Linked DNA regions of Homo sapiens. The protein of the gene in region 1 purifies or fractionates together with the protein of each later gene. This does not show direct contact. Each region holds a gene or a part of one and is shown on either strand. Other genes may lie near its edges.

Evidence for each region.
Region 2: the proteins of POLR2B (region 1) and GPN2 purify together in Homo sapiens (affinity purification with mass spectrometry; 4 studies listed by BioGRID and IntAct, with this or other methods). This does not show direct contact.

The regions. Positions count from the first base shown.
Region 1 is NC_000004.12:57,026,529-57,031,697, reverse strand, and holds the end of POLR2B (DNA-directed RNA polymerase II subunit RPB2), read right to left. Parts: intron 1,495-5,169; coding exon 1,299-1,494; intron 926-1,298; exon of another isoform or gene 800-925; coding exon 710-799; 3' UTR 540-709; downstream 1-539. Other genes in the region: IGFBP7 (insulin-like growth factor-binding protein 7 isoform 1 precursor), read left to right, coding at 362-381. UniProt on the Homo sapiens protein: Catalytic core component of RNA polymerase II (Pol II), a DNA-dependent RNA polymerase which synthesizes mRNA precursors and many functional non-coding RNAs using the four ribonucleoside triphosphates as substrates.
Region 2 is NC_000001.11:26,879,264-26,884,432, forward strand, and holds part of GPN2 (GPN-loop GTPase 2), read right to left. Parts: intron 5,028-5,169; coding exon 4,897-5,027; intron 487-4,896; coding exon 414-486; 3' UTR 1-413. UniProt on the Homo sapiens protein: Small GTPase required for proper localization of RNA polymerase II and III (RNAPII and RNAPIII). May act at an RNAP assembly step prior to nuclear import.

The DNA.
Region 1 (5,169 bases):
TTTGAGTCTCAGCTCTGCTACTAATTATTCCTCCACTTTACCTTTTGAAGGAGATCCGGACTACAAAGGAAAGGTCTTTAACCTCTCTGAATCTCATTGTGAAATGTGCTCTTCCAGTTCTATAATAAGATGTACCTTTGATGCATCAACCAATACAGCAAAATTGCCTTTCATAGCTAAAATCATGTAACTTGAGTTCCACAGAGCACTCCAGCATATCATTTATACAATTACTCATATATCCTTTATCCCCATATTTTAACATCTTCATTTATTTGGAAACACTCAACTACCTGCCAATTCAAAAGTCAACCACATCCCCATATGTAACTAATTTTTATCTTTTTTTTTTTTTAAACAGGTGAAGGTGCCGAGCTATAAACCTCCAGAATATTATTAGTCTGCATGGTTAAAAGTAGTCATGGATAACTACATTACCTGTTCTTGCCTAATAAGTTTCTTTTAATCCAATCCACTAACACTTTAGTTATATTCACTGGTTTTACACAGAGAAATACAAAATAAAGATCACACATCAAGACTATCTACAAAAATTTATTATATATTTACAGAAGAAAAGCATGCATATCATTAAACAAATAAAATACTTTTTATCACAACACAGTACATATTTGTCATTTTTAAAAAGCCACACAATAGAAACAAGACACCAAGATATTTAATTATCTTGTTGACTCCTGTAAAATAGCTAAACACTCATCATTCGCGGTGCAATACTCATAGACATAAGTTCCTGAAACAATAGTTTGCATGCGTAAGGCATTCGCACCAAAGAAATCTGAAAAGAAAAAACAAATGGTAATTAGCAGAATTGTATTGAAGTGACCCCACTTCTCTACCCCAGAAAAAGACAAAGATCTGGTACTGTAGATAATGAATAAATGAGTGGAGCTGAGAACACACATTCTGCTACCTCAGCTTATGGTGGTTCTTTCTCCTAGTAGGCTTTGGTATTTTACCCATTCTGCCAGACATAATTTATATTCACCCACCTCAACTAAAAGGTTTTCAAAAACTCATTGTTTAAAATCCCTTGTACAAAGTCTTATTATTTCCAAAAGATGAATAGCTTAGAGAAATTACCACACTAAAACCTAAACTGGTTTTTAGAAAAATCAAATTATCTTTTCCTTATTTAGAACTCGGAATCTCACAGAAGCATGCTATCAAAATTGTGAAAATGCCAATCTGTTCTGCCACACTAATTCTGCCTGGATAATCAGACCAACACAGTTTCCTCTAAACAAATATCAACTGCCAGTAAAGTCTATACACACCTGGGTTTTATTGCGGCAGCCCCTGCATTCATATGTATGGGTCCTGGTGTTGGCAATCGCCATTATTCCACAAAGATTGCAAACATGAACCTGATATGGATCTGATGCCTCAAACAATCTTTCCCTTAAAAACTGGGCTGCTCCATGGGCAATCTGACAATCTCGTTCCATTTCTCCAAAACGCAGGCCACCATCACTGTTAAGAGAAAAAAATTATTACTTTGTACTTATTTTTTATTATAAACACCGCCTTGAATAATGGCAAAGGTGGAGAATAATATTTGCAAAGACGGATAACTAGGCTCTAATTTTTATACCCTAGCATTCTCTCTATTGGTGGGGAGAGGAGAAGTCTACCAACTATTTGACGTGCATTAGAAAGTCCCCAAATGGGCTAAGCAAAGTGGCTCACCCCTGTAATCCCAGCACTTTGGGAAGTGGACTGGGTGGATCTCTTGAGCTCAGGAGCCTGGGCAACATGGCGAGACCCCATCTCTATTTTTTAACAAATAAAAATAAAAACAGAAGGTCCCCAAATGGAGTGGATACATTAGATTCTTAAGTAGAGCATTTAATTTTCCTCATAAGACACAATAAAGCATAGAGTGGAGGTTCATCATGCTATCATTTAACTTTCTAGAATTCAACTCTATACTAAAAAAATGAATAATGAAAAAGACAATCTAAATAAGGCAGCTTGTCAATGGAATGACTGTCCCAGGCAATCAACCTTGAAATCATAAATACATGTTGGCTGAAGTAATGGAAAGAACAGGTAAATGATAATAGGTTTCCCCAACATAAGAAGTGAAATAAATGCATTATTCAGATGGCCAGGCAAATAGATGGTGATGGCTTCCTTAACATACTTAATATCCAAAATATACAAAATAAAACCAATGGGTTTATAATGATATTCCACCAAAACAAAAAAATCATTGGTCGACTTTGGACCACTGATCTGGATCATTAGACAACCAGCTCACTATTTTGAAAACTGGTAAATAAAAAAAGAGAATCAAGCATTTATTCCTGCCCTTACTATAAGAACTACATCACTAGGTAACCAAACAGTTGAGGAAACAAAGTTTTAGAAGTAGTCTGGCTAAAAACTGAAGAAGGACTGAGAAAAAATAGAATGGTATCAGTTGGAAATCGCCATTTAATTAAGGTCTTTAGTAATAGCTGCTAAAATCATAAAAAGAAAGGCAACCAGATACTGGAAGTATAGAATACCACCTATAAAGTATTACTGCCAAAAAACTCAAACGCTAAATCTCAAGCCTCAAGATCTATTTACAAAAAACAAAAAACAAACAAACAAACAAAAAACAGCAATGCACAGCATTTGGGATGCAAGCAGCAAAATTCAGTCTCAAGCCCTGGACAAACAGTCCAGGTTGTTCAACAAACAAATTACAAGGGGAAAAAAAAGGTTGGAAGGCAACCAATAAATTCAAAAAAGGACTTATGAGACACTATCAATCAATTGCAAAGCATGGACCTTATCTGTATACTGATTAAAACCAACAAACCTTTAAAAAACTTATGTGATAATCAGGGAAATGTAAATCTGGATATTTAATACTAAGGAGGTACTGTGGTTAGGTTTAGTGTCCTAATCTTTTAGAGCAGAGGTTCTCAGAGTGTGGTTCATGGACCGCCTGAGAGTCAAAGCTATTTTTAATAGTAATACTAACAACATATATTTGCTTCTTTCACTGTGTTTACATTTGCACTGATGGTGGAAACATGAATAAAACTGCTGACACCTTAGCAGAACTCAGGGTAGCAGAACCAAACATTACTAGCAGTCATATTCTCCATTCAAGTGAAGGGGAGAAAAGCCAGTTTTACTTAAAAATGTCCTTAATGAAGCAGTGAAAATAAATAGTTTTATTAAACCTTAACCCTTGAGTATACATCTCTTTCATATCCTGTGACTTTTAAAAAAATGAAAGTCCTCAACCAGGCACGATGACTCACACCTATAATCCCAGCACTTTGGGAGGCCAAGGTGAGAGGCTGGATTGAGCCCAGGAGTTCAAGACCAGCCAGAGCAACACAGTAAGACCCAGTCTCTATATAAAAAATAAAGTAAAATAAAATGGAACACTTCATAAGCACTTCTACTGCATAGTGAAGATGACTGTCTTGAACAAAAGCACTTGCATGATTCTGAACTAGTCCCTTTTAACATGGAGTATCTTTTTTACTCAAATAGCCAGCTGACACCAACTATGTTAACTCATCAACATGTTAACACCCATGATGTTAATTCAGACTTAGAATTAAGTTGACGATGTTGTAGATATTTGGCAGACAAAGAAATGAACAAAAAGAAATGAAAGCAAACGAAAAAAGTAAGTCTTTGAGGAAAATAATTTTAAGTATTTGTTGAAAATGATGAAAATTGTGAGCTTCAAGCAAAAATCAGAATTTTAGGAAACTTCTATGCACCACTATGGGCTTGATAGCTTCCTGATATATTTAAAGGCTTTTCTAATGACATCAGTAGTCATATTAACAAATGCAATTTTTTTATTATAATGAAGTGTGTTAACATTTGAAAATCTACGTAACTCAGCAAACCAATATTTTCCAAATGACCAATTAGGATGCTACAAAATATGCATGTGTAAAAGATACATCTGAAGTACAAGACAAACCAATGAACTTCAAACATAAATACAGAAGGTTCATTCATATGGTTTCAGTTTCTACATCAAAACCAACCTTTGAGAAACTACAACTTACCGTTTTGGTGTAGTATCAAAAAAATATCCACAGGCCAGGCGCCTTGGCTCATGCCTGTAATCCCAGCACTTTGGGAGGCCAAGGCAGACAGGTGGATCACTTAAGCTCAGGAGTTTGAGACCAGCTGGGAAACATGGCAAAACCCTGTCTCTACTAAAAAATATAAAAAATTAGCTGGGCTTGGTGGTGCATGCCTGTAGTCCCAGCTACTTGAGGCTGAGATGGGAGGATCACCTGAGCCTGGAAAGTAGAGGCTGCAGTGAGCTGTGATTGTGCCACCACACTCCAGCCTAGGCAACAGGGATGAAACTGTCTCAAAAAAAGGGAAGGGGTGGGCTGGGCGTGGTGGCTCTTGCCTGTAATCCCAGCAATTTGGAAGGCCAAGGCAGGCGGATCACTTGAGGCCAACCATTTGAGACCAGCCTGGGCAAAATGGTGAAACCCTGGCTCTACAAAAAATACAAAAATTAGCTGGGCTTGGTGGCGCACACCTGTAATCCCAGCTACTTGGGAGGCCGAGGCACGAGAATTGCTTGAATCCGGGAGGCGGAGGTTGCCGTGAGCCGAGATCGCACCACTGCACTCCAGCCTGGGTGACAGAGTGAGACTGTCTCACAAAAAAAAAGCCAAAATATTCCTCTCTTTCCAACCACTTATTTGCATGAAATTAGAACTTCCTCATATACTTAAATATAAAAAATAAAATACTACAATGGAATGAATGCAGAAGTAGATGTAAGAATCCAGCTGTTTCTATTAAGCCAGGTCATTAGAGAGATTCGCAAAAATGTAAACCAATGTTATTCTTGTCACTAAATTCATCTGGAAAATAGATATATTTTTCATTAAACATGGTTTTTTGTTTTGTTTTGTTTTGTTATCGAGACAGAGTCTCACTCTGTCGCCCAGGCTGGAGTGCAGTGGCACGATCTTGGCTCACTGCAACCTCCACCTCCTGGGTTCAAGCAATTCTTCCCTCAGGCTCCCGAGTAGCTGGGATTACAGGTGTGAGCCACCACGCCCAGCCAAAACATGTTATTTATGTTAACACGTAATGAGCTTATTAGCATTTTTAAAACAATAAATTTAAAATCTCAGCTTTAACTTCTAATAT
Region 2 (5,169 bases), on another chromosome or scaffold:
TGTGAATTATATGCTTTGGGGAAATACTGATTATTCCAAGGCTAGGTGACACTCCCTCATTCTTCCCCAAACCCCTGGGCCCGGAAGACTGAAGAAAAGTTTGGAAGTCACAAAAAGTAGAAAATAAACTCTTGTATTGTAGCACATTTCATCACAGCCTGACTAGGACCAGTGCTCGACTTTCTGGTGGCAGGGCCCAGAGCTCACGGACACCACTGACAGTATGGGGGGTGTTCTGCTTGGCACCATGTCTGGCTTTTTGGCCAGAAGTCCTTTGCAGAGCTGAATATCCCCTTGCCAGCCCGCCAGCTCTGGCTGGGAGGACTTGCTCTTGGGTCTGCAGCCTGCATCAGGAGCCTCCACTTTCCCCAGTGCTGGATTATGCATCCTGCTCTCCAGGGTCCACCTTGTTGCTACAGCTGCATGGCTTCCTGCTCCACTGACTGGTTCGAGGGTGCCAGGTACTTCTCCTGGATGCCCAGTGTGCTGAGGAAGGGTGCGTCAAGGCTGATAGCATAGGCAGAGGATGGGGAGCTGGTCTGGGCAGGATCTGACTTCCGCTGATGCCTACACTCCAACCATGTCCATCCCTCTCTTCCTCATAATTATAGGGACCAATCAGGTATGAGAAGCCTCCAAAAACACCCAGACTCAAATGCTCCTCTATCTGCCTCTTCCACACACTGCTGCGGATCAAAGGACTGGACAGTACTAACCTTGCAATTTTGCGTTATGGCACATGCTCTGGAGCCAGACTAAGGGAGTTCAAAACCTGATGATGTCTGGGTCTGGGGTCTGACGAGGACATGGAGGTTAGCCATGGCTAGGTTGGCTATGTTAGGACACCATGGCTGTTGTACTACCAGATGGCTCCAAAGTAAGAAACAGATTCTACACCCACCAAAACCAAGGTTTGAACTGTTCTTCCAAAACATCCCGGGAGAGGGACCTTGGGCCTGTCGCCTCAATTATAAAAGGGGTTGAAATGAGGATTAAATGACCCTGCAAGTAAAGCACTTAGCCCACCAAATGATGTTCGAGTTACAGACCTTTCTTTTTCTTTTTTTTGAGACAGAGTCTCACTCTGTCACCAAGCTGGAGTGCAGTGGCGCGATCTCGGCTCACCGCAACCTCCAACTCCCTGGTTCAAGCAATTCTCCTGCCTCAGCCTCCAGAGTAGCTGGGACTACAGGTACATGCCAGCACACCCAGCTAATTTTTCTATTTTTAGTAGAGACAGGGTTTCACCATGTTGACAGAAATGGTCTCGATCTCCTGACCTCGTGATCCGCCCGCCTTGGCCTCCCAAAGTGCTGGGATTACAGGCGTAAGCCACCACGCCTGGCCAAAAATAAATTTTTATACTTTAAAAAAAAAAAAGAGAGAGAGATGGGGTCTCACTATGTTACCCAGTCTGGTCTCAAACTCCTGGCCTTGAGCAATCCTCCCACCTTTAACTCCCAAAGTGTTGGAATTACAGGCATGAAGCCATTACACTTGGCCCATGCCATCTTATTTGCAACCCTTGAAACCTGTCTCAACTTTGAACCCCTATGCCTTTGCATGTTCTCTTAACTTGAATTCCCTTTTCTTCTTCATTAGACTGGCTAACCCTCACCTTGAAATGACACAACTCACGTGTCATGCCTCCATAAAGCTTTCCTTACCCACCTACCCTTCAGCAAAGCTGACCACTCCCTTATTTGTATCAGTCCCTACTCTCTTACAGAGAGCTGCTGAATCTTAAGGGGGTTAGGGTCAGGGCAGAATCTAAAATCAGCACAAATGTATATGGTTAAAAATACTCTTTAAAATTCCTCAAATTATTTGTTAAATGCAGCATACATGGTTTTGTGAATAGAATCCTTTATATATACGAATACATAAAGTAACGTACAGATGCTCCTTGACTTATGATGGGGTTACATCCTGATAAACCCATCCTAAATCAAAAATATCTTAAGTCGAAAATGCATTTAATACACATAACCTACCACACATCATAGCTTAGTTTCGCCTACCTTAAATATTCTTAGAACACTTACGTTAGCTGCATTTGGGCAAAATTATCTAACACAAAGCCTATTTTACAATAAAGTATTGAATATCTCATGTAATTTATTGAATACTGTACTGAAAGTGAAAGAATGATTGATAGGTACCCAAAGTATGATTTCTACTGAATGCATATAGCTTTCACACCATCATAAAGTTGAGCCATCATAAGTTGGGAACCATCTGTACGGTGTACAAAATACTACATTATTTAAATTGCTTCTCCCAGCCTAGGCTGTATGGTGAAACCCCATCTCTACAAAAATTAGCTGGCCACAGTGGCACACGCCCATAGTCCTAGCTATTCAGGAGGCTGAAGTGGGAGGATCACTTGAGCCCAGGGAGGTCAAGGCTGCAGTGAGCTGAGATCACGCCACTGCACTCCAGCCTGGGCAACAGAGTGAGACTCTGCCTCACAAAATAAACAAACATAAACTGCCCTTCCCAGCTGGGGACGATGGCTCATGCCTGTGATCCCAGCACTTTGGGAGGCTGAGGTGGGAGGGTAACGAGCCCAGGAGTTCAAGGTCGCAGTGAGCTATGATTGCATCACTGCACTCCAGCCTGGGCAAAGGAGCAAGACCCTGCCTCTAAGAAATAAATATAAAAGTTGCAGGCCGGGCATGGTGGCTCACGCCTATAATCCCAGCACTTTGGGAGGCCAAGGCAGGTGGATCACCTGAGTTCAGGAGTTCGAAACCAGCCTGGCCAACATGGTAAAACGCTGTCTCTACTAAAAATACAAAAAATTAGCTGAGCGTGGTGGCGGGCGCCTATTATCCCACTTACTCGGGAGGCTGAGGCAGGAGAATTGCTTGAACGTGGGAGATGGAGGTTGCAGTGAGCTGAGATTGCACCATTGCACTCCAACTGGGGCAACAAGATTGACGGTCCGTCTCAAAAAAAAAAAAAAAAAAGGGCCAGGTGTGGTGGAGCATGCCTGTAATCCCAGCTACTTAGGAGGCTGAGGGAGGAGAATCACTTGAACCCTGGAGTTGGAGATTGCATTCCAGCCTGGGCAACAACAGCAAAAGAAAGTCCATCTTAAATTTAAAAAAAAAATTGCTCCTCCCCTCTTTTGCTGAGCACATGCAGTCCAATTGGCCTACATTAACTGCAGGTGTGACGCAGCTCCTTAGTACCTTCATCAGGGACTGCACACTCTACTGCCATCATTTATAAGTCATTCCTCCAACCCCGACCCCATGAGCTTTGTTTCCCACATATGGCTCGAGAAACATCAGTAAGTGTTGGCTGGAATTATTTTCCTCTATACCCTAAGACTCCTGAGTCCCCCTTGTCTCCAGCATGCTGCATAGATGCTGAATCTGTGAGAGCATCAGCCTAGAGGGCCTGGACTTTTCTGTCCTGCTTCACGCATGGCCTCTGTGACCTGATGGACACCTACCCATGACCTTGGCTCCAGCCTCATTAGTCACTAACCAAGCTCCAAAAGTCTGGCTGCCTCTTGGACAGCTCTGGATGTCCCATGGACCCCTGAACACAGCACATCTGCCAGCTCTTGTCCCTTTCATCCATGTGACAAACCTGCTCCCTCCTCCTTTTCCTGCCTCAGTGATTAGTACAACCACCCACCGTCTAAGCCAGAGATCTGGGAAGCTAAGTTCTACTCCAGCTCCATCTATCCCATTCAGTCACTGACTCTTACAGTCTATCTCCTTAGTATTTTTCCATTCTACACCTTTCTTTCTATTCTCACTACAAATCTTTCAACCCTTCTCACCTAGCAAGACTGTAAAACTCTTTTGCCCCCAATCACGTCCCTTAAATGCATTTTCCACAATTGCAGGGGCTTTTCTAAAATGTACATCTGATTGTGTCACACCCTGTTCAACAGTACTGCTTGAATACTTGCTCCCACTGCCCACCCATGAACTGAAGTCCACATTCCTTAGTAGGGCACTCAGGCCCCTCCCTCGGCAGCCCTGCCTGTACCCCTGCAACGCCCTTTCCTCTTCACATGCAACACACCAGGAACTGGACTCCTGCATCTCTCCCGAATGACTAATGCCCTCTCATTTCTGGGCCTCTGTATTTGTTACTCCTATTGATCAATATCCTCTCTTGTCCTCAGTACAACCAACTCTGAAGCCAAGGGACCACCTTTGCACATGAGAGACAGTCATCAGGAAGCCCAACTGATCAATATGAAATCAGTCATCCACGGCCGGGCGCAGTGGCTCATGCCTGTAATCCCAGCACTTTGGGAGGCTGAGGCAGGTGGATCACCTGAGGTCAAGAGTTCCAGACCAGCCTGGCCAACATGGTGAAACCCCGTCTCTACTAAAAATATAAAAACTAACTGGGCACAGTGGCGCACACTAATACCAGCTACTTGGGAGGCTGAGGCAGGAGAATTGCTTGAATATGGGAGGCAGAGGTTACACAGAGCCAAGATTGCGCCATTGTGCGATCCAGCCTGGGCAACAAGAGCGAAACTCCCTTTCAAAAAAAAAAAAGAAAAAAGAAATTGGGTGGATCACAAGGTCAGGAGATCAAGACCATCCTGGCCAACACAGTGAAACCCCGTCTCTACTAAAAATACAAAAAATTAGCTGGGCGTGGTGGTGGGTGGCTGTAGTCCCAGCTACTCAGGAGGCTGGGGCAGGAGAGTGGCGTGAACCCGGGAGGCAGAGCTTGCAGTGAGCTGAGATCGTGCCACTGCACTCCAGCCTGGGCGACAGAGCAAGACTCCATCTCAAAAAAAAAAAAAAAAAAAGAAATTGGTCATCCACAAGGTTGATGACTGCACCTCCTGTGGCCATTCTTGAGTCCCATGTCTCACCCTCTCTGCTATGGCCAGGAAGCTGGCAAGGATACGAAGAGAAATGGAAGTCGGCTCCCATTGCGGCAGACATCATGGCTTCCAAGCTTCGCTGCTCTTGGGCTCTGAAACAGTATCCATTGGCTTTATCCACAGCCTGCAGGACTCGCTGGATGCTCTCCTTGTCCTGAGCAGGGAGGAGAGAAACAGTTCTGTGAGTGAAACAGAAGTATGTAAAACTGCTTGCAATCTCTAAATACACCTTCCTCCATCTTGCCTCTGTACCTGTAGCTTTCTTGGCCTGGAGTAGTTCTACATGTCCCCAAAGG